4 separate regions of the Homo sapiens genome follow, and regions 1, 2 and 3 are each linked to region 4. Evidence: fine-mapped expression QTL. A gene starts in region 4. Each other region holds a variant in brackets. All regions are shown on one strand. Distances are between the middles of the regions. Region 1 overlaps STX18 (syntaxin 18). Region 2 overlaps LOC105374359 (a long non-coding RNA gene). Region 3 has its middle 24 kb from the start of NSG1. Region 4 holds the start of NSG1 (neuronal vesicle trafficking associated 1).

Region 1 (5,170 bases), 35 kb before region 4:
AGGGAAGCCCTCTTCTGCAAATGGTTCCACTGGGGTCTGCCTGCTCCTGTACCCACCAGGGAGTCAGGAATGCAGAAGGCAAGGCCTTGGTCACTCACACATGCACCCGTTAGCCTCTAGTTTCTGTGGGAAGGCTTGGAGCATGCTGAAAGTAAGGCCCAGGACTTTGCAGAGCCTGTTGTATTGTGGACATGTCCCCCAAATAAAATCAATCCTGATGCTGCACTCACACAGCCTGAGGACTTTCTCAGTGTAGGTGTCAGCCTCCAAGGGGCTCTTCGCCTTCTGCCCTCAGAGATGGACCTCCTAGTCCTCCTCTGACAGCCTAGCTTTCACTGTCTGCCCCACTACCGCCCCCACCCCGCTACTCCCCCATGCCCAGATACTCACTGGCTTTTCTTCCCACATCTCCTCCCCTGCCCCCTGCCACTGTGATACTGTTGGGATTCATCACTGCTTCCACCTGGCCAGGAGCTCAGCTCCCACCACTTTTTGCCTCCTGTCACTTCCTGTCGCTGCTTTGTGCTGGAACAGCAGTTGACTTCAGCTTGGGCCAGCTTCTGTTTCTAAATAGATGTGCCCCCACCCGCCCCCCAGGGTAGCCCATGCTGCCCCTGACACCAGGAAGATGGCTAGCCCAAGTGTTTCAGATCCGACAGAACACTCCGTTGCCAAACCAAGACATGGCATTTTCTAAATGAATCAGAGGAGCTTTTTTCTTGGAACAGGGAGTTGGTTTGAAGGTAAATACACTTTTTTCTTTAACCTGCTGAGCATTAACAAAGCTGGATCATCAGCATATTCTGACCTTCTGAATCCCCACCATGTGTTACCATGGTGATGAGGCTAGGCAGAGAACTTACTGGAGACTGCTTTCTGTAACTGGGGCACAACCAGGCCCTCCCCATTCCCCGAGCAGTGACACAGAATGCAAAGGGCACTGCACACACCCACCTCTTGGGACTGAGGGTCAGTTGGCATGGTAGAGTGGACTTCCAAAAAGACCAGTGTGCTAGGCTATGCCAGAAGACAGGGAAGGTGACCCAGTAAGGAGAGTTCGCCTTCCTCTCCCATCTCCTCTTCCCCCAGCCGACACAGTGTGCCCCCTGTCTCTCCCACCTTCACGTAGAAGATAGGATTTCTTTAGAAGTGTGTAACAGTCCTGTTAGATTACCAAGTGCTAATAGTTAATATGTAATCTGTTCTTTTTATGAAGGCAAATCGAAGGGAGAGTGGTTGAGATTTCCAGACTCCAAGAGATATTCACGGAAAAGGTTTTGCAACAGGTAAAAAAACAAAAACAAAGGAGCTGTATGTTTTCACTCAAAGGGGAATGTACTTGAGAGCACGAGACATTTTTCCCAAAGGCTGCTGCTCTACACAGCCAGGAGCAGAGCCATGTGTTGCTAGCAGGTGTGTGTGCGCAGAGCTCCTCAGGGAAAAGCTCTCACTACCCAGAGCTGCCTCTGCACACGTGTGATGGAGGAGGAGCTCCCCACAGGGGACCCACTGACCACCCCATGTGGTAGCACATGCGGTGGCACGTGGGAGGAGAGTCCAGGCCTGGCAGTCAGGGTTCTGGATGTGCTGGGTAAGCTAGGTAGCCCCCACAAGCTACAGTTTCCCATCTATAGGAGGGAGGGACTCCTGCAGGGTTATTCTCTGTTTGAGAGATAACTGCAGAAGCATCCAGCACGATGCTGACGGGCAGTTGCTTTTCAGTCAGTAGGTTACAGGAGCTCAGACCCAGGCCTCTCACAACGCGCGGTCCATGCCACCTCAGGGATGGTGTCTGCGTGGGAAATAGGATTGTTCTTTTCAAGTGAATTTTCTGAAATTCTTCCAGCCAATAACTGGCAAAACTTTTCAAGACCTGATAAATTTGCCCTTTTATTTTTAGCATCCAAAGACTATGGGAACGTTTGAAAGACAAAATTTTCTCCAGTATTTTAAACTGGACTACTTGACTTAAGATACTTCACTCACAAAATGACTTTCCATAAACCACACAGCCAGAGTGAAATCATTGTAAATGAGGTACATTAAGTCTAACAGTGGTTTGCAAGTTCGGGTTCATAGGAGTCGCCCTTTTTAATAACACTACCCTGCTTCAAACCTCCCAGCGGCTCCAGGGGGCCTGGGAGGGGCGTGCAGAGCATAGGCAGAGCCTTGCCTTGGCTCACCGGGAGTTTCTTTTTCTTTTCTTTTTTTTTCTTTTTCTTTTTTTTTTTTTTGGAGACAGAGTCTTGCTGTGTCGCCCAGGCTGGAGTGCAATGTTGCTATCTTGGCTCACTGCAACCTCATCCTCCCAGGTTCAAGCGATTCTCCTGCCTCAGTCAGCCTCTTGAGTAGCTGGGATTACAGGCATGCCACCACGCCTGGCTAATTTTGGTATTTTTAGTAAAGACGGGGTTTCACCATCTTGGCCAGGCTGGTCCCGAACTCCTGACTTCAGGTGATCCACCTGCCTTGGCCTCCCAAAGTGCTGGGATTACAGACGAGAGCCACTGCGCCCGGCCCACTGGGAGTTCCTAAGTCCTGAGGAACAATGTGTCTTTCTTGTTTTTTCCATCAGTGTTGCATTGTAGTTCATATTGATTCTCTCATTGGAACCTTGGCAGTGGTCACTTAGTTCACACTTTGAGACTCTCTAAAAAGGGGTGATGATGAGGCAAAGCCATCCCAGTAATATTCATTGCTGGGAATCAGAGGCCACATGCTGCCTTCCTCCCTACAATGTGTCAGTCAGGTTTCTCTAAAAACCCACGCTAGCATTCATTCTGCCCTGACCCTGTTAGGAAGCAGCTTCACCACCACCGAAAGGAGGAGAGAAGCAGGCACTCCTGCTTGTAAGGACGTCTAGCACCGTCTCTGCTCCTGTGGGGCCAGACGCCCCCTGTGTTATCCCACGCTTCTCAAGCTTTTCAAGGCTT[C/T]GTTTGGAGTAAACGTTTTCTGTAAGCATCCTGCATCCTATTTTGATTTTTAAATTTTAGCCTGTTTTTTAAGAGATATGATGATAGTAAAACACAAAGCACTATTTTTGAAGCTAGCATATGTATTTCGAAGCACATACATTTTAAAGCTTACTTCTGTGGACTTCAGAAAGAAATGAGAGACTAGAAGGGAAGCCCCTGGCATATGGTGGCTGCTCCACAAACAATAGCTCTTAGGTTTTTGTCCGTCACCGGCGAGTGGCGCAGGAGGGATGGTAAGTGTGGCGGAAGGAGCACTGCAACAAGATGGGGTCTCAGCCCTGCGCGGTGGCTCATGCCTGTAATCCCAGCACTCTGGGAGGCCGAGGCGGGAGCATGGTGTGAGCTCAAGAGTTCAAGACCAGCCTGGGCAACATAGGGAGACCCCCCATCTCTACAAAAAATTTTAAAAATTTAGCCAGGCGTGGTGGCACATGCCTATACTCCCAGCTACTTGGGAGGCTGAAGTGGGAGGATCGTTTAAGCCCTGTCTCAAAAAAAAAAAAAGTCTCAGTCCTGCCACTTGGTTGCTGTGTGATGTGACTTTGGGCAAGTTAGTAAACTTCTCTGAGCCGTGAGTTTCCGTTTCATAAAATAGAGGTAATACCTACTTCTTGGGGTGCTGTGAGGATTTGTGGCTATGCAAGTAAAGCCGTTAGCCCTTGGTGACGGCTACTGTTCTTGTCATGATATACGCTTCAGGGAGGAGGAAGTGGCTGTATATGTCAAGCATCCCTAAACTTCAAAATGTGAAGTCCTAAGTGCTCCAAAATCTGAAACTTTCTGAGCGCTGACATGACACTCAAAGGAAATGCTCGTTGGAGCATTTTGGGTTTCAGGTTTTTGGATAAAGGATACTCAACTTGTATTTATCTTTTCTTCCACAGGAAGCTGAGATTGACAGCATTCACCAGTTAGTTGTGGGGGCAACTGAAAATATCAAGGAAGGCAACGAAGACATAAGAGAGGTAGGCACTGTTTAGGTTCCCCAGGTGCGACGTGGCGCAGCACTGAGTCCCAGCAGCGGGTGTTAGTCTCGCCGGCACAGCTGCCCAGGAGCCTTGCTGGGCAGAGCTCACGGGGCTGATCACAAAATTGTGTGACCGCGGAGCTGCGTGTGTTCATGAGACCCACCACCTGTCGCCCACCTCCAGCTGCTTTCGAGAGGCAGTGGCTCACCAGCCTCCAAAGGAGCAATCCAGGGTGGGTGGGGGTACTCCTGGCAGGGTCAGGCCAGCTCTTCATGTCCAGGGATGTACATGGGTAGCTCGTTGGCCCCCACCGAGGGGTCAGAGCCTGGCCCCTGCTTACAGAGGACACTACAGCCATCCTGTTGAGGGGACTGTTTCCCAAGCTCAGTCCTCAGGGTTGGGTCACCACGGACATCATGTTACTGGGAAACACAAAGCTTGCGGTCACACTCTGCTCGGGGCCCTTAACCCTGGGACAGAAGGGAGTGATTCCGAGAGTTGTGTTGAGGGAGAATTGTGCAGGACCCAAATGATGGCCAAACAGAGGGAAATATAACCCATTTGTCTTCTGGTGGATCTCAAAAGCCATCTATTCAAGGTAAGCACAGATGGAACGACACCCATAGTTACAGCCAGGATCAGGAGAGCACGTGGGAAGAGGGGGGCATTTCAGGGCTGCTCAAACCAAAATCCTGTGTGATAAAAACACCTGTGCTCCCGTCCCTGCCCAGGCCATTAAAAACAACGCTGGCTTCCGCGTGTGGATCCTCTTCTTCCTCGTGATGTGCTCCTTCTCCTTGCTCTTCCTCGACTGGTACGACAGCTAGCCAGGGCCACGGGGGCCCAGCACGAGAGTCCTCATGGGCACTCACAGACTGCGTGCTTTCATGTACTTCCAGTGCTGGAGCATGGTATGACCAGATTTTATCACAGTGCCATTTGAAGGGAAAGGAGTTCAGACAGACAGACGTATTCCCCAAAAAGGGATACCCCAGGCCGATGGTGTTCAGCCATTTAGCAGCTGAAAAAGGAAACAGTGCACACCAATGGGAGGCAGCCTGCGTAGCCCTCATCAGGCAAGACAGACTGAATGCAGGAGTGGGTGATTAGCTGCTCCTTGAACTTGAGGCTGCCTTGGCAGCAGGGGCACAGCAGGCCTCAAGAGCCCCTAATTGTCTCAGGGTTCAAAGGAAGACACTGACCTTTCCCATCCCGGTAGCTTCAGGG
Region 2 (5,269 bases), 400 kb after region 4:
GCACAGAGGGCTTCATTATCAAATAGAAACAAGTGGAAAAAACAGAATTTGTCCATAATACAAATGTAAGGTAAACACAAAAATGTATTGAGTGCATAAAAAGAATCTATGGTCTCACAGGCATTAGCTTATAATTTGAACATCAAAAATAAAAGTGACGGCCAGGTGCAGTGGCTGATGCCTGTAATCCCAGCACTTTGGGAGACCGATGTGGGTGGATCACTTGAGCCCAGGAATTTGAGACCAGCCTGAGCAACATAGGGAGACCCCCATCTCTAAAATAAATAAATATAAATAAAAGTGACTAGAATTGATTATAGAACATCAACTCGATTTGAGTCTATAAAGATTCCTGGTGAAGGGGGGCAATGGGGAGAAGGAGAAAGAGAATATATTTGTGACCTAGATTATTTTCCTTAGTTTTGAGAGAATGTTCGGGTCTCCTGGGTCTTCTAGCCCAGTATTTATTTTTATTTTTTATTTATTTATTTATTATTTTTTTTAGATGGAGTCTCACTCTGCCACCAGACTGGAGTGCAGTGGTGCGATCTCGGGCCACTGCAACTTCCGTCTCCCAGGATCAATCTATTCTCCTGTCTCAGCCCCCCAAGTGGCTAGGACTACAGGTACCTGCCACTTCACCCAGATAATTTTTTTTTTTTTTTTTGAGACCGAGTCTGGCTCTGTTGCCCAGGCTGCGGTGCAGTGGTGCAATCTCGGCTCACTGCAAGCTCCACCTCCCAGGTTCATGCCATTCTCCTCCCTCAGCCTCCCGAGTAGTTGGGACTAAAGGCACCTGCCACCACGCCCGGCTAATTTTTTTGTATTTTTAGTAGAGGCAGGGTTTCACCGTGTTAGCCAGGATGGTCTCGATCTCCTGACCTCATGATCTGCCCGCCTCAGCCTACCAAAGTAGGCATTACTGTAATCAAGGATTACAGGCATGAGCCACTGTGCCCAGCCGCACCCAGCTAATTTTTGTATTTTTTGTAGAGATGGTGTTTCACCATGTTGATCAAGGCTGGTCTCGAACTCCTGATCTCAGGTGATCCGCCCGCCTTGGCATCCCAAAATACAAGGATTACAGGCATGAGCCACCACACCCTGCCTATTTTCCTTAGTTTTCAGAGAACCTTTGTGTCCCCTGGGTGTTCTAGCCCAGTATATCTCAAACTTTGCTGCACCGAGGACCTTGTTGAAATGCAGGTTCTCATCTGGGAGGCTCAGTGGGCCAGCAAATCTGCATTGGTTTAGGAAGCTCACCCTGAGTATCAAGCTTCAGTGAGGACCAGGCAGTCCCCTGCCTGCCAACCCCCTCTCAGCTGGGCTTAACTCTCGCTCTCTCCTGCCAGGGTTCCTCCCCTCAAAATAGGAGCTATTTTCAAAAAGTCTCTTGGAAAAAAAGCCCTGTTTTAAAATTGGGGTGTTCAGGATTGGCCATCTGCTCACCATGGGGTTTTAAGACCTTTGCCCAGACCCCTGCAACCAACTTAGAACTGACCTCTTTACTCTTGAAGGCCCGACTCCACACCATATTAAATTCATTAAAATCCACCCCCATTACAGGCATATCTCAGGCATCACGCCCTCAGAACGGAGTTGCAGCTGATCCCTTGACAGTGTTGTAAAGCATTAAACATGCGTTCATTTCAGCCTTGCAGTTTGCACATTTAGCAGCCAATTGTCTTGGGTCTAAAGCATTCATGTCCAAGCATTGTTATGGGCCCCAGACACTATGCTTCCCAGCCTCAATGGCCTCTGCAATGCTGGTTCCTACTGCCCCACCCCTGGGTTCTGGCCGGCTAGCCCGCGCCACCTCACTGCTCCCCCATTCAAGTGTGCCTTAAATGTGTGGTTTCCAAACTCATCTACACTTTAGGGTCACCTGGGATTTTTTTTTAAGTCTTCCAAAACCCAGGCCACACCGAAGAACAATTGAACCCTAACCTCCGGAATGGGACATAGCATCCGTTTTTTGTTTTGTTTTGTTTTTGAGACAGGGCCTCGCTCTGTTACCCAGGCTGGAGTGCAGTGGCACAATCATAGCTCACTACAGCCTCCAACTCCTGGGCTCAAGCAACACTACCACTTCAACCTCCACGGTAGCTGGGATCACAGGCGGGCACCACCACGCCTGGCTAATTTTTAAATTTTTTATAGAGACAGTATCTCCCTATGTTCTCCAGGCTCGTCTCAAACTCCTGAGCTCAAGCGATACTCCCGCCTCAGCCTCCCAAACTGCTGGGATTATAGGCATGAGCCACCATGCCTGGACATCAGCATCTGTATTTTTTGAAGCACAGATGAGTTTGGGAACTACCGCCCTAGACTGAGCTCGGTTTCCTAGCCCTGTCTGACCGTAGGATTCGGCTGGGCTGCTTCTGAAAACAGAGCTCCCCAGGCTTCTTCCCAGGTAATTCTGATTCATTAGGTCTGGGTTGGGCCCCGGAATGTGCGTTTTTTATGAGATCCCTCTGGATGAATCAGGCTAAAGCCAGTTTGGGATCTGAGACCTTGGAGATCATTCCCCAGCCTCCCTCCTAACCCAGTTCCCAGCTTGGCCCACCTCACCCAGGCTGTGTCACCTCTGACTTCGTAGATTACACCTGAGAGGGAAGCCCCAGCCATCACAATGTGAGAATATTTTACAATGACCAGGATATGCCAAATACATTTTAAAACTCATTCAGGATTAGCGTTCACCTTAAACTTGACAGACTCTGAGAACGGGCTGGCCACGTGCTGTGCACAACCCTTAGTGCTCTTCTGTGACTAATATTTGGATAATTGATAGTTGGAAGCTCAGGAAGCCTCTCTCTCTCTCCGAGGGGTCGAAGTTAACTTCCTTATTTCTGAGGTAGGGAAGAAAATGAGGATGTTCTGCCTTTTGCCAGACTGAATACTGTCCTCCAAAAATTCACATTCACCAGGAATCCCAGAATGTGGCCTTATTAGAAAATAGGG[G/A]CAAGACATGGTGGCTCATGCTTGTAGTCTTAACACTTTGGGAGGCTGAGGCAGGAGGATCACTTGAGGTCAGGAGTTCAAGACCAGCCTGGCTAGCATGGCAAAACCCTGTCTCTACTAAAAACACAAACATTAGCTAGGCATGGTGGCATGCACCTGTAATCCCAGCTACTTTGGAGGCTGAGGCTGAAGAATCACTTGAACCCAGGAGGCAGAGTTGCAGCGAGCTGAGATTGTGTCACTGAACTCCAGCCTGGGCAACAGAGCAAGGCTCCATCTCAAAAAAAAAGAAAAGAAAATAGGGTCACTGCAGATCTAATTACAAAGAGGTCATATTGGAATAGCGTGGACCTTAAATCCAGTAATAATGGCATCCTCATGGAAAGATAAGAAGAGACAGAGACACACAGGGGAGAAGGCCACGTGAGAATGAAGGAAGAGAATGGAATGATGTGGCCACAAGCCAAGGATTGCCAGCAACCACCAGAAGCCAGAAGAGGCAAGGAAGGATTCATCCCTAGAGCCTTCAGAGGGAGCACGGCCCTGCCCGTTTCAGACACCAAGCTTCTGGAACTGGAGAGAATGACTTTCTGTTGTCCTGAGCCACCCATTTGGGGAACTTTGTTAGAACAGTCACAGCCAGCTCATGTGCTCCTGAATGCATCTCAGGCATTAATAAGCACTGTCTTGGCCAGTCAGGGTGGCTCACCCCTGTAATCCCAGCACTTTGGGAGGCAGAGGTGGGTAGATCACCTGAGGTCAGGAGTTCGAGACCAACCTGACCAACATGGAGAAACCCCATCTCTACTAAAAATACAAAAATTAGATGGGCGTGGTGTTGTGCACCTGTAATCCCAGCTACTTGGGAGGCTGAGGCAAGAGAATCACTTGAACCCTGGAGGCAGAAGTTGCAGTGAGCCGAGATTGCGCCATTGCACTCCAGCCTGGGCAACAAGAGCGAAACTCTGTCTCAAAAAAAAATAATAAGTACTGTCTTGACTGTGGTCATCAAAAATATTTGATGAAGGGTTAGCTAGAAAGCCTGACCCTTTCACAGATGGACGGAAGGGCCAAAAGAAAATAGATTGTTTGCAGTGGGGCAAGAAGGATAAGAATCCTATGGAAAGAAAAACAGAGGGATTTGTTTAGTGAGCGCTGGGGAGAGACATTTGTTTTCTTGCTTAAAAAAGAAACACAGGTGGGGTGCGGTGGCTCAAGCCTTAATCCCAGCACTCTCGGAGGCCAAGGTGGGTGGATCACCTAAGGTCAGGGGTTTGAGACCAGCCTGGCCAACAACATGAAACCCCATCTCTACTAAAAAGACAAAAACAAAAGAAAGAAAGAAATTAGCCAGACATGGTGGTGAGCGCCTGTAATCCCAGCTACTCGTGTGGCTGAGGCAGAGAACCACTTGAACCTGGGAGGCAGAGGTTGCAGTAAGCCAAGATGGCATCGTTGCACTCCAGCCTAGGAAACAAGAGTGAAACTCTGTCTCAAACAAAAAAAAGAAAGAAAGAAAGAAAAAAAAAACATAGTTTTAAGTCCACTCAGTGGAGTTTAAAAATACATTCTCGTTGCACAGTGCTTTTGGAATCTTTTCTAAACTTCTGTTGCACATGATCTAATTTGATCTTCATAGCAACTCCCTGAGGTGGATAGGGCAGGCCTTTCTGAACACCAATTTTCTACTTTGCATTAAAAGAACGGAATTGGCTGGGACCAGTGGCTCATGCCTATAATCCCAGCACTTTGTGATACAGAAGGGAAGTGCTCGGAAGGGAAGAATGTGGTCCCTTTAAATGATATGGAAGTGAGGAAGGGAAGTACTGGGTAGAGGAGGGTGTGGTCCCTGGCTAGGGCTTCACCACAGGGCCTGTGCCCATGGACCTAGGTGAGGACAGGGATTTTTGTTTTCCCGCCCAAATGTTGCATTTCCCAAGACCACCCTGGCTGCCACACCCCCATTCTGTGCCTATAAAAACCCTGAGACCCTAGCAGGCAGACACACAGGCAGCTGGACTTCGAGAGGAGCACATCAGCGGAGGAACACAAGGGCGCTGGACATCAAGAGGAACGCACCAATGGGCACCGGCACACCGCAGGCCACTGACTGCAGAACAACGCAGTTTGGCTGGGACAGTCAGAGAAGAGTCAGGCCACTCGCCCGAATCCAGGGGTAAACCACCTCCCTTCTGGCTCCCCCATCTGCTGAGAGATACTTCCACTCAATAAAACCTTGCGCTCTCACGCCTGTAATTCCAGCACTTTGGGAGGCCGAGGCGGGCAGATCACGAGGTCAGGAGAT
Region 3 (5,269 bases), 24 kb after region 4:
TTGCCCCCTTGGGCTCCAGGCTTACCTCCATGCCTTCTTTTCTGTCACATCATGCTGGATGGTGCCAGCCCTGGAACCAGGCTTCCTGATCAGAGCCCAGCTCTGCTGTAGGTCACCAGCTGTGTGACCTTGTGGAAGTTATTGAAACTCTGTGCCTCAGTTTCCTCACCTATAAAATGGACCTAATACTAGTTTCACTTGGGGATGTTGGGAAGATGAAGTTAGAATCATCCATGTGGCTGGCACATAGTAAGAGCCCAGTGTCAGCTGTGAGTTTTAATCTTGTGCTAACCCATCAGAGACTGTGCCCCTGGCATTTCTTTTCTCCAGGCATTCTCAGCACCTCCAACTGTTTTTACCTAGCTGTACCTTCCTGTCTAACCTTGTACCTTCAGGGTCACCCCAGGTAAGACATGTGCTTCTTCATCAATGTGCCCTTTCTGGTGTGAGTCCTGAACTGGCCCAGGATTCAGATTCTGCATGAGAGGTGAGGTGTGCAGACACGATGCTCTGGGGGTGCCTGAGAATTGCCACCAGGAGGTTATTCATGAGGTCTCCAGACAGAAGGGCCCTGAGGAAGGGCAGGGAGAACATTCCAGAAGGAGCAGCCCCTTGGCACATCTAAGCAGGGCTAGATGGGGCACGTGGGAAGGTGAGGAGCTGATGTTGCCAAGGGAAGCAGAAGCTTTTAATGGCGGCTGTGTTTGGCTGCAACATGGCCCCCAAGGTTATCCCCGTCCAAATCTGCATAACCTATGGCTGTTACCTTATATGCCAAAAGGGACTTTGCAGCTGAGACCAAGCTAAACGTTTTTGGGTGTAAAGCTTATTCTAGGTTATCGGATGACCCCTGAATGTAATCACAGGTGTCCCTATAAGAGGGAGGTTTGATGCAGAAGAAAAACTGGAGCAAGATGTGACGCTGCTGCCTTTGAAGATGGAGGAAGGAGTTGCCACCTGAGGAATGCGAGGAATGTGAAGAAAGCAGTTCCCGGAGCTGGAAATGGATTCTCCCAGGGCCTCAGGAGTGCAGCCCTGCCAACACCTTGCCTTAAGCCCCATGAAACTCATTTCAGGTCTCTGCCCTCCAGAACTGCAAAAGTTGCTCTCATTTTAAGCCACTGAATGTGTGCTAATGAATTTGTTACAGCAGCCACAGGACACTGATACACAAGGTTAAGTGATATAGTTTGGCTGTGTCCCCACCCAAATCTCATCTTGAATTCCCATGTGTTCCAGGAGGGACCTGGTGAGAGGTAATTGAATCGTGGGGGCGGGATTTTCCCATGCTGTTCTCATGATCATGAGTCTCACAAGATCTCATAGTTCTATAAAGAGACATTCCCCTGCACAAGCTCTCTCTCTCTTTGCCCGCTGCCATCCACGTAAGATGTGACTTGCTCCTCCTTGCCTTCTGCCATGATTGTGAGGCCTCCACAGCCATGTGGAACTGTAAGTCCAATAAACCTCTTCCTTCTGTAAATTGCCCTGTCTTGGGTATGTCTTTATCAGCAGCATGAAAATTGACTAATAAACTAGGGAATTTTTAACTTTCTCCCAAGCATACATAACCTAGTGAAGAGTTTTGAGCAGGGATGTTTAAAAATACAGTGTATTCATAGGACATCTGAAGTCCCTGAAGGCCCACAGATCACAAGACGCCTGCCAATAAAAAGATTGTTTGTCACTCACAGTTTCCAAGAGGAGGCGGCAGGCCATGCCTGGGGCCACACAGGAAGATGGGCACAGTCACGAGGAGGAGGCAAAGGGGAGAGCAGTGAGTGGGCACTTTGACTGTGGTTGCTGTGGGACAGAACCAGCAAGAAAGGTAGGCAGGCTTAGGATTGGCCAGTTTGAATAATTAAAGCTGCTCCAGGGCACAAGGCTGTCCCTACTAATCTGGTACCTGCCCTGAGCTGATGAGGACAGGTAGATGTGGCTGGAGCAGTAGAGCCTAGAAAAACAGGTGGCTGCAGCGTGGACTCTGGGTTGGTTGGTTTGTATTTGAAAAGTGCCTCTACCCAGAAGAGGACTCCTCTGAGGAGTGGGGGAGGTGACGAGGGAGGCAGGAGGTCAGGCACGGTGACTTAAGCACATTATCAGGTTGTTCAGAACAAGGCCTTTCTGGCCCATGCATGGAGGATGGATGTCAACGAAGTGTCAAGTTCACAGAGGCTAGAAACACAGGTGACGCCGGGTGTAATGCATTCAGGCTTGTCTCAGCAAAATCACCATTGTAGCAGGGTGCAGAGACCCCCTCTGGCGGCTGAGCAGGCACAGAGGGCTGTGTATTCAGTAGGTGCATATATCAACCCTCCTGCACCCTCTGTCCCCTCCCAGCCCCTCCAGAGCTGCCTTTCCCCTCCCTGCCCCAGTCTGTGCTCTGCCCACACTGCTGTCTCGTGGGTGCCCCCCAGCGCCCAGCAGCCCTTTCCTTCCGCATGAGCTCCTGCCCATCCCTTGGGGCCAGTGTGGATGCTACTCTCCCCTGGAGAAATCAGCCCCGACAGCACCCGCTGTGCATACACGGCGCTCCCCGTGCATTCACCACGTGCTCCCTGCCATGCTGGGCACTTCTCACCGATCACTGGGTTGGCTCTGATGCAACTGCCAACATCCAGTCATTTTTGACCTACAAAAAGTGGCGATTTAATACGGTTCGACCTAAATCCTTCAGTTAATCCTCAGAATAATTGTGTAAGTTAGGGACGCTTTACCAGTGAGGAAACTGAGACTGAGATGATTTGGAAATTCAGTCACAAAGCTCACATTCATTTTCTGTGGCTGCCATGACACATACCACAGCTTGCATGGGTTAAAACAACACAGATGTATTTTCCCACAGTTCTGAAGGCCAGAAGTCTGAAATCACAGTGGCAACAGGGCTGCTGCCTC[C/T]GACTGCTCTAGGAGAGAATCCATGCTGGCCTCTTCCAGGCCTTCTCTTTGGTCTCAAATCTCCCTCCGCCTTTCTCTTGCAGGGACCCTGTCACTGTATTTGGGATCCACCTGTATGATCCAGGCTGATCTCTGGAGATCCTTCACTGAATTGTATCTGCAAAACCCTATTGCCAAATAAGGTAGCTAATATGGTTAAGCTCTGTGTCCCCACCCAAATCTCATCTTGAATTGTAATAATCCCCATGTATCAAGGGTGGGACCAGGTGGGGATCATTGAATCATGGGGGCAGTTTCCCCCATGCTGTTCTCGTGATAGCAAGTGAGTTCTCATGAGATCTGATGGTTGTTTTCTGTTTGTTTGTTTGTTTGTTTGTTTGAGACAGAGTCTCACGCTGTTACCCAGGCTGGAGTGCAGTAGCGCAATCTCGGCTCACTGCAACCTCCGCCTCCCAGGTTCAAGCAATTCTCCTGCCTCAGCCTCCCAAGTAGCTGGGATTACAGGCATGGGCCAACACACCTGGCTAATTTTTATAGTTTTAGTAGAGACGGGGTTTCGCCATATTGACCAGGCCGGTCTCAAACTCCTGACCTCAGGTGATCTGCCCGCCTCGGCCTCCCAAAGTGCTGGGATTACAGGTACGAGCCACAGCACCTGGCCTAAGATCTGATGGTTTTTTAAAGGGCTTCCCCCTTTGCTAGGCTCTTACTCTTCTTCCTGCCACCATGTGAAGAAGGATGTGTTTGTTTCCCCTTCTACCATGATTGTAAGTTTCCTGAGGCCTCCCCCGCCATGTGGAACTGTGAGTCCATTAAACCTCTTTCCTTTATAAATTACCCAGTCTCAGGCGGTCCTTCACAGCAGCGTGAGAACAGACTAACACAGTGGCACTCGCAGGTTCTGGGGACTCGAGCACGGACACATCTGTTTAGGGGCCACCATTCAACCCACTACAGCTCATAAGTGGTGTCATCAGCTGAGCCCAGGGTGTCTACAGCCACAAGGCTGGTGTGCGGTTAGGGCTTGCTTTTGTACCACTTCCCCACCTGACACTGTGTCTGTGTAACACCTGCCCAGCCCCCACATATGGGCTTGGCTTTGGTCACGTCCAAGCTCCAGATCCTAAATCATCTGGAAGCCTCTTTCTTACCCTCCTGAGTGTTTCCCCACATGTTCAACACACACTCAGGAGGGTTTTCTTACGTCTTTAATTTCTCAGCACAAAACAAGTCTAAAAATAAGCACTCACTGCTTCTTGTCAAATAAATTCTGAAAACCATGTGTAGGAAGGGCCTGTGTTGACAAGGGTATGAATATCCTGGTGGCTGATGTCAAATGGGGCAGTTCCATGTGCTGAGTTCTGTGCAGGACAAAAAGCTGACACTGGCCGAATCTTGCCGTGGGCAGCTTACCCGTGAGCCACTGTGCACAGCCCACACAGAATTAGCTGTGAACCCTGAAAATCTGAGGCAGGTCTCAGTTAATTTAGAAAGTTTATTTTGCCAAGGTTGAGGACACACGCCTGTGACGCAGCCTCAGGAGGTCCTGACGACATGTACCCAGGGTGGTCAGAGCACAGTTTGGTTTTATACATTTTAGGGAGATATGAGCCATCAATGAACATATGTAAGATTAACATTGGTTTGGTCCGGAAAGGTGGGACAACTGGAAGCAAAAACGGGACAACTCAAAGTGGGGAGGGGGTTTCCAGGTCCTAGGTAGATAAGAGACAAACAGTTGCATTCTTTTTTTGTTTGTTTTTTCTTTGAGATGGAGTTTTGCTCTTATTGCCCAGGCTGGAGTGCAATGGCGCAATCTCGGCTCACCACAACCTCAGCCTCCCAGGTTCAACTGATTCTCCTGCCTCAGCCTCCCGAGTAGCTGGGATTACAGGCATGCACCACTATGCCCATCTAATACTGTAGTTATAGTAGAGACAGGGTTTCTCCATATTGGTCAGGCTGGTCTTGAACTCCTGACCTCAGGTGATCCGCCCGCCTCAGGCTCCTAAAGCGCTGGGATTACAGGCATGAGCCACTGCACCTGGCCTGGTTGCATTGTTGTGAGTGTCTAATTAGCCCCTCCAAAGGAGGCAGTCAGATATGCATTTATCTCAGTGAGCAGAGGGGTGACTTGGAATAGGATGGGAGGCACGTTTGCCCTAAGCAGTTCCCAGCCTGACCTTTCCCTTTAGCTTAGTGATTTTGGGGCCCCAAGATTTCTTTTCCTTTCACATAGCAGCTGTCTAGAGTGAGAGAGCTGAGTGGGGAAACCATTTCGAGGACAGAAACCAAGACGTTGTTTCCTCCTGACCTCACTGGATCCCCCTCAGTGCTCTTTCGCAAAAGTATTATTATTCCCACTTTAAGGAAG
Region 4 (5,269 bases):
CACCTCAGCACTCCATACACGTTCTCAGAACAGATTCTCATTTATAACCCAACTGTGTCACCACCCCTCAGAAGCCATGTCACCTGAAACAGGTGACATCGCCTCCCTGAACTCTGACCGTTAGCAACACGTTGCTGTTGTTCAGGTTAAGAGAGGTCTTACGTGAGAGACATCTGGCTCCAAGCACAGTGGAGTAAGAGGCACTGCCAGAAACTTCTGCATCCTGGAGGACTGTAACCTTCAGCCCAGTGACCTTGGGTATGTCCCATAAATGCTCTGAGGCTCAGTTCCCTCATTGTGACCTTAGAAGCCTTCTGGAAAATGATCCCAAGAGCCATAACCCTTGTACCCACACTCAGTCCCGGCGGGAAGTCCGGGATGGAAGGTCTGGCTGGACCCGAGAAGAGCATCCCTGCTGGCTGCCCCGCTTCGGACGCTTGCAGAGAGAGCAGACTCATCACCTTTCCGAGCTGCCTAGGCTACTCCTGGTCGACCTAATTAGTTGGTGAGGATTTCATACCTGCCTGAAACCCTCCTCCCTGTATAAACCAACTGTGCCAAATGGTTCTGGAATGGAACAGACTGAGGACAAGAGAGGAGGCTCAGGCCAAGTGAGGGGAATCACCTGATAGAGGTGCTGCCTCAGGACACGGAGTTCCTGGCACAGGCGCCACTGCTCCTCAGCCGAGCAGCTGGGGGCCCAGGCAGGAGGGGGTGTGGGGGCCTCGGGGCCAGGCCCCGCTAACTGGACGAGTCTGATGCCTAGACAGGGAGGGGTGGAGTGGAAGCTGAGGCCTCAGGCAGCCCTGCCCCTCCTGCAAAGCCTAGCCTGGACCATCAGTGGCCCAGAGTGGCACCACCGTGGCCTGGGGGGCACAGGTGTGGCCGGCTGATCCCCCTTTCTTGAACTGAAACCCCCGCTGCCAGCCTCTTCCCGGCTCCTGCCTCCCTCCCCAGACGACACACACAATAAAGCTGGGAGGACACCTTCACAGGGGTCAGGGCCCCCACCAGGACACCCCCACCCCACAACACCCACCCCGTCAGCAATCACCAACTTGCTGGAACGAAGACAGAGCCCTGGCTCAGAGCCCCTTCACCAGGGACTAAATGAGAAAATAAATAGAAAAGCACTTCCGGGAATTATTCGTGGCTGTGGTGGTTCGTAAGCGGCAGCAAGATGCTGAGAGTAGATGCTGTGTCTATGGTCTTAGATGTGAATTTTACAGTACAATTGCCTAGACATGCAAAGATCTATTTACATTTTTAAGTGTTAACTCTTGGAAATATTATTCTTAGCAAACAGAAACTACTTAATTGGATGCTACATTCAAAAAGAGGAGATTCTTTAAATTCAGCAGAAAACACTTTGGGGAAAGGTTGATGAATGGTTTTTCCCAGTGACACCAATACTGAGCGAGCCCGGGCACTTATTTGGAGATTTCACAAAAGGAACAAAGAGGAAGGAGACCCTGTGTGAGCGCGCACACCCTCCTGCACCTAGCGCCAGCCTGGCAGGGGCAGGCAGAAAGGGCGAGAACAATTCAGCCCTGGGGAGGGGCCATCTGACCAAGGAGAACGCTCCCCCGCCTCGGTGGGGCAAGTCGGGCTGAACTGCCACACCCGGGAAGGTACAGGGGCAGCCTCGCCCGCCCCTAGGCTCACCCCCGATCCAGAGCCCCTGGGGCCACGGGGCAAGGGAGGAGCAGGGCAGCTGCGGGGCCAGGGCCCTCTCGGATGAGGCTCCCAGGAAAAACGCGAAGGAATCTTGCCCCACCGCGTTCCACTGTCAGGACGAGAATATCATCTAAGGCAGGGCTCCCCTCCCCCGCCCAGCATCCCGCGATCCAGAATCCCGCGCGGGTACACTGTCCTCGCCGCGCTCCCTCCGGCCTCCCGAGCCCGCCCCCACTTCGCGTACCCAGCGCACGCGGCGCGTTTCTTTTGTTGCGCCCGCCGTGCGAGATTTGGGGGTGCACACCCGGCAACGTGGAGGGGCGTGGGGGGGCTTACCTTATCCGGGGGCGGGAACTGCAGCTGATTGACATCGAGGGGCGTCATCAGGGGAATGGTGTCGAAGCCATCCTCCAGCAGCGGCTGCTTGGTGCCCTTCTCTGCGAAATTGTTCCCCAACTTCACCATCGTTCCGGGAGCTCCGAGGCTGCAGCCTGCGGCGGGAGGGCCGGGGGGAGTCACCACAAGCAAGACCCGGGGCGGGGCGGGGGGGAAGTGGGCACCCACACCCACCGGCGTCCCGGCGTCCGCGAGCTCCCCGGCCCCGCTTCGTCTCGGGGAGGGCTCGTGGGGACGCGGTGGTCACGGCCCGATGCGGGGGTCGGGTGGTGCTGTGTATTTCTAGACCCTCATCTCGCAGGACCCAAGCGCCGGGCGCAAGGGCGCACCGCGGCCAGGGAAGGGGGCGCCGCCCCTGCCCAGCACCTCCAGACCCGGTCCCCGGTCCTGGGGCCGCCGCACCCGGGCGACCCGCTGTTCACAGCCCCGTCCCGCGTACTCCGGGAGATGGGCATCCCCCGGGCACTGCTCCTGGGCGGGCAAGGTCTGGCCTCGGCAAGCCCAGGCGCGGCCGGCCGCACTCACCCACGCCCGGCTCCGGCAGGTCAGCTGAGCGCTCCGAGCTCCGCGTCTCCTGCTCCTGCTCGCAGCAATGGCGGAGGCGGCGCCGCGCGCGGACCCGGGAAGGGGAGCGAACGATTGGGCTCCACGGCCGCTCCCTCCTCCTCGCGCCGCCGCCTCCCTTCCTGCCTCTCCCGGGGGCTGGGTGCGCGCGGGTGGGTGCGCGCGTGTGGCCGCGCCTCCACCTTGACGCAGCGCCCGCCCGGCCGCACAAAGGAGTGCGGGGCTGGGCGGGAGCCTCCCCTGGGACCACGCGCCCGCCCTGAGCCGGGGGAGGGAACAGGGGAGCGGGAGAGGACGCGCCCCCAGGGGGTCTCGGAGCGGCGGAGGGCGCCCGGAGCGGGAGGGCTGCGGGCTGCGCCACCCCGGGCGGCGGCCTGGGCGCGAGGCGCTTAGAAAGGAGAAAGGGGAGGCGGGGACCGTAGGGACAGAGCGACCCCCAGGGGTGCGGGGAGGTGCAGAGAGGGTCCCCGCCCGCAGCGCGCCGCGCTCACCTGGGGGTCCTGAGGACGTTCAAGGGTTTGGGGGGATGGGTCCAGGAGGCGCTGGGTGGTGGCGGAGACCAGAGCAGGGTGCTCCTTAGTGCTGGGTTGGGGAGGGGGCGACCAAAAGAGGGCGCGTCCGCGTATAAAGGGGGCGCGGCCCGTAAAGGAGGCGCGGCCCGTAAAGGAGGAGGAGGTTTTCGGTGGTGCGGGAGGCGGAGTAGCGCTCTCCCAGGGCTGGGGTGTGGGCGCCCAGGGTGAGGCTGCCCCAGGCAGCGGGAGGGAAGTCGTTCTAGGCAAAGAGCGCTCAGTGCGCCGCTTGGAGGGAGGCGGAAAGGTTCCTCCGCTCTGGTTGGCAGAGAAGGTGGAGGTCCCACTGCAGCCGCCGCCCGAGCATCCTGGGCACAGAGGAGGGGCCGCTGGGACGATGCCCGGACGCGGAGAGAAGGGGGGTGGTTCTAGCCCGACCTGCGCCCCCAAACCCCGAGCTCAGCCGCTGTCGCGGCTTCCCAGAGAGGGTCCTGTTTGCAGACCTCCAACCCGTCCTGCCTGCAGGACTCACGGATGAAAGACTATGGGGTGTGGGGGCGAGGCCGAAATGGGAGTGGAGCCCGCGCGGGAGGAGGCCGGCTGCGGGGATCGGTGCCTCCTGGGCACCTGGGCCAGGAGCTGGGCCCTGTCAGGCGCTGGACGAGGAGGAGGCATCACCCAAATTCGATACTTTTTCACACCCTTTCCGGGGACTTCCCCGCGGCACTACGGAGGGTCCGGGGCGTTTTCCATCAGCCGTCTGAGAATCCTGGGAATAAGCCCAGAGCACAGGAGCAGCCACCGCCTTGAGCCCCAGGCACAGCCTGGGAACTTGCCGCGGGTGCCCTGATTTCAAAATCCCCAGGAGGGCTAGCCGTCTTTGACAGGTGACCTAGTGGGTATCTCGTAACTCGCCCCAACTCTCCAGCCAGGGTCTAAGTGTGCCTTTGACCACAGGCCAGCCTGGTCTGAACCCAGGCTCCTGGCAGAGGCACCCCGCCCCCAACCCAGGGAAAGCGGGTGTCAGACTCTGGCCCCTGCCACGGGCCTCGGGGACCCACAGAACCCACCTTTTTGGCACTTTGATGCCTCCCTGAAGCAGGTGAAGAAGAGAAGATTTCTCTTGCTCCACTTCAGAAATCTGCCCAGGCATCTGCCATGAGAGTGACCCACTGGTCAGGAGAAACCCTTTGGGCTTAAGCAAGGAAATGGCTTTCCCGCACCCCCCCCCGCCCCGCCCCCCGTCTCAGGCTCAAGCATTTAACAGAACCCAACACACACGCGCGCGCGCAAACACACACACACACACACACACACACACACACACACTTGGTCAGAATTCCACACCAGGAGGAACAAAGTGGAGGCCCTGCCCCTCCCTTAGAGACTCTGTCAACTGAGGAGGACAGAAAGGCAAGAAGGACCTAGGTTGTCCCAGAGATGGACGGTGAACAATCATGTTTCTCTGCTAGCTGGCCTTTTGTGCTGTCTTGGGTCTTCACTGGTGCTGGTCATTGGGACTGTTTCATCCTGTGGTTTTCTTCCTCTGCTGATTGTATCTGGGCCCTGTGAAGGGCATGGACAATGCAAAATGCATGAGACACAGCGCCACCCGCAGGGAGCTACGGACAAGGGCAAGTCTTTGCTGGGAGCAGTGGCCCTGTGGGAGAGTGGCCTCTGCCTCTTGCCAGGAGGGAGGACATCCAGAGACTGTGGGTAAAGACTGTGGATAAAGCTTCCTACAGGTGGGCCTGAGAGAGGTGCGTGCAGAGGGGAAGGCATTCCAGGTAGGAGAACAGAATGTGTTAAGACAGTATATGAGCTTCCTGCCACTGTTGGAACAAATTTGGCTTAAAACAATAGAAACATGTTCTCTCCTGGCTTTGGAGGCCAGAAGTCTAAAGTCTAGGTCCCAGCAGGGCCTCACTCCCTCTACAAGCCACAGAGAAGAACCTGTTCTTTCCCCCTCCAGCTTCCAGTGGCTCCAGACATTCTTTGACTGTGGCTGCATCACTCCAATCTCTGCCTTCATGTCACTCCAGTCATATTGCCTCCTCCTCTTCTCTGTGTCTCTTATAAGGACACTCATCATAGGATTTAGGGCCTGCTGGGATAATCCAGGA

Evidence for each region. PIP is the estimated chance that this variant, and not a neighbour inherited with it, causes the effect.
Region 1: its variant is the best candidate, but not a certain one, in a credible set for the expression of NSG1 in whole blood (TOPMed, PIP 0.85).
Region 2: its variant is the best candidate, but not a certain one, in a credible set for the expression of NSG1 in left ventricle (GTEx, PIP 0.77).
Region 3: its variant is the best candidate, but not a certain one, in a credible set for the expression of NSG1 in whole blood (INTERVAL, PIP 0.72).

Annotation. Positions count from the first base shown.
Region 1 is chr4:4,419,634-4,424,803 of GRCh38, reverse strand. It overlaps STX18 (syntaxin 18), which reads left to right. Exons shown (of 11, transcript NM_016930.4): 9 at 1,217-1,286; 10 at 3,860-3,940; 11 at 4,675-5,170. The coding sequence ends at 4,770. Among named protein-coding and RNA genes, the nearest start is that of NSG1, 35 kb to the right of the region's middle. The variant C/T (reference allele first, on the strand shown) is at 2,934.
Region 2 is chr4:3,989,088-3,994,356 of GRCh38, reverse strand. All of the region lies in intron 1 of LOC105374359 (a long non-coding RNA gene), which reads right to left. Among named protein-coding and RNA genes, the nearest start is that of ADRA2C, 230 kb to the right of the region's middle. The variant G/A (reference allele first, on the strand shown) is at 2,965.
Region 3 is chr4:4,360,717-4,365,985 of GRCh38, reverse strand. No RefSeq gene overlaps it. Among named protein-coding and RNA genes, the nearest start is that of NSG1, 24 kb to the left of the region's middle. The variant C/T (reference allele first, on the strand shown) is at 2,896.
Region 4 is chr4:4,384,503-4,389,771 of GRCh38, reverse strand. NSG1 (neuronal vesicle trafficking associated 1) reads right to left here and starts at 2,670. Exons shown (of 5, transcript NM_014392.5): 1 at 2,599-2,670; 2 at 2,014-2,168. The coding sequence starts at 2,142. It overlaps LOC112268462 (a long non-coding RNA gene), which reads right to left. Exons shown (of 3, transcript XR_007058004.1): 3 at 5,163-5,250.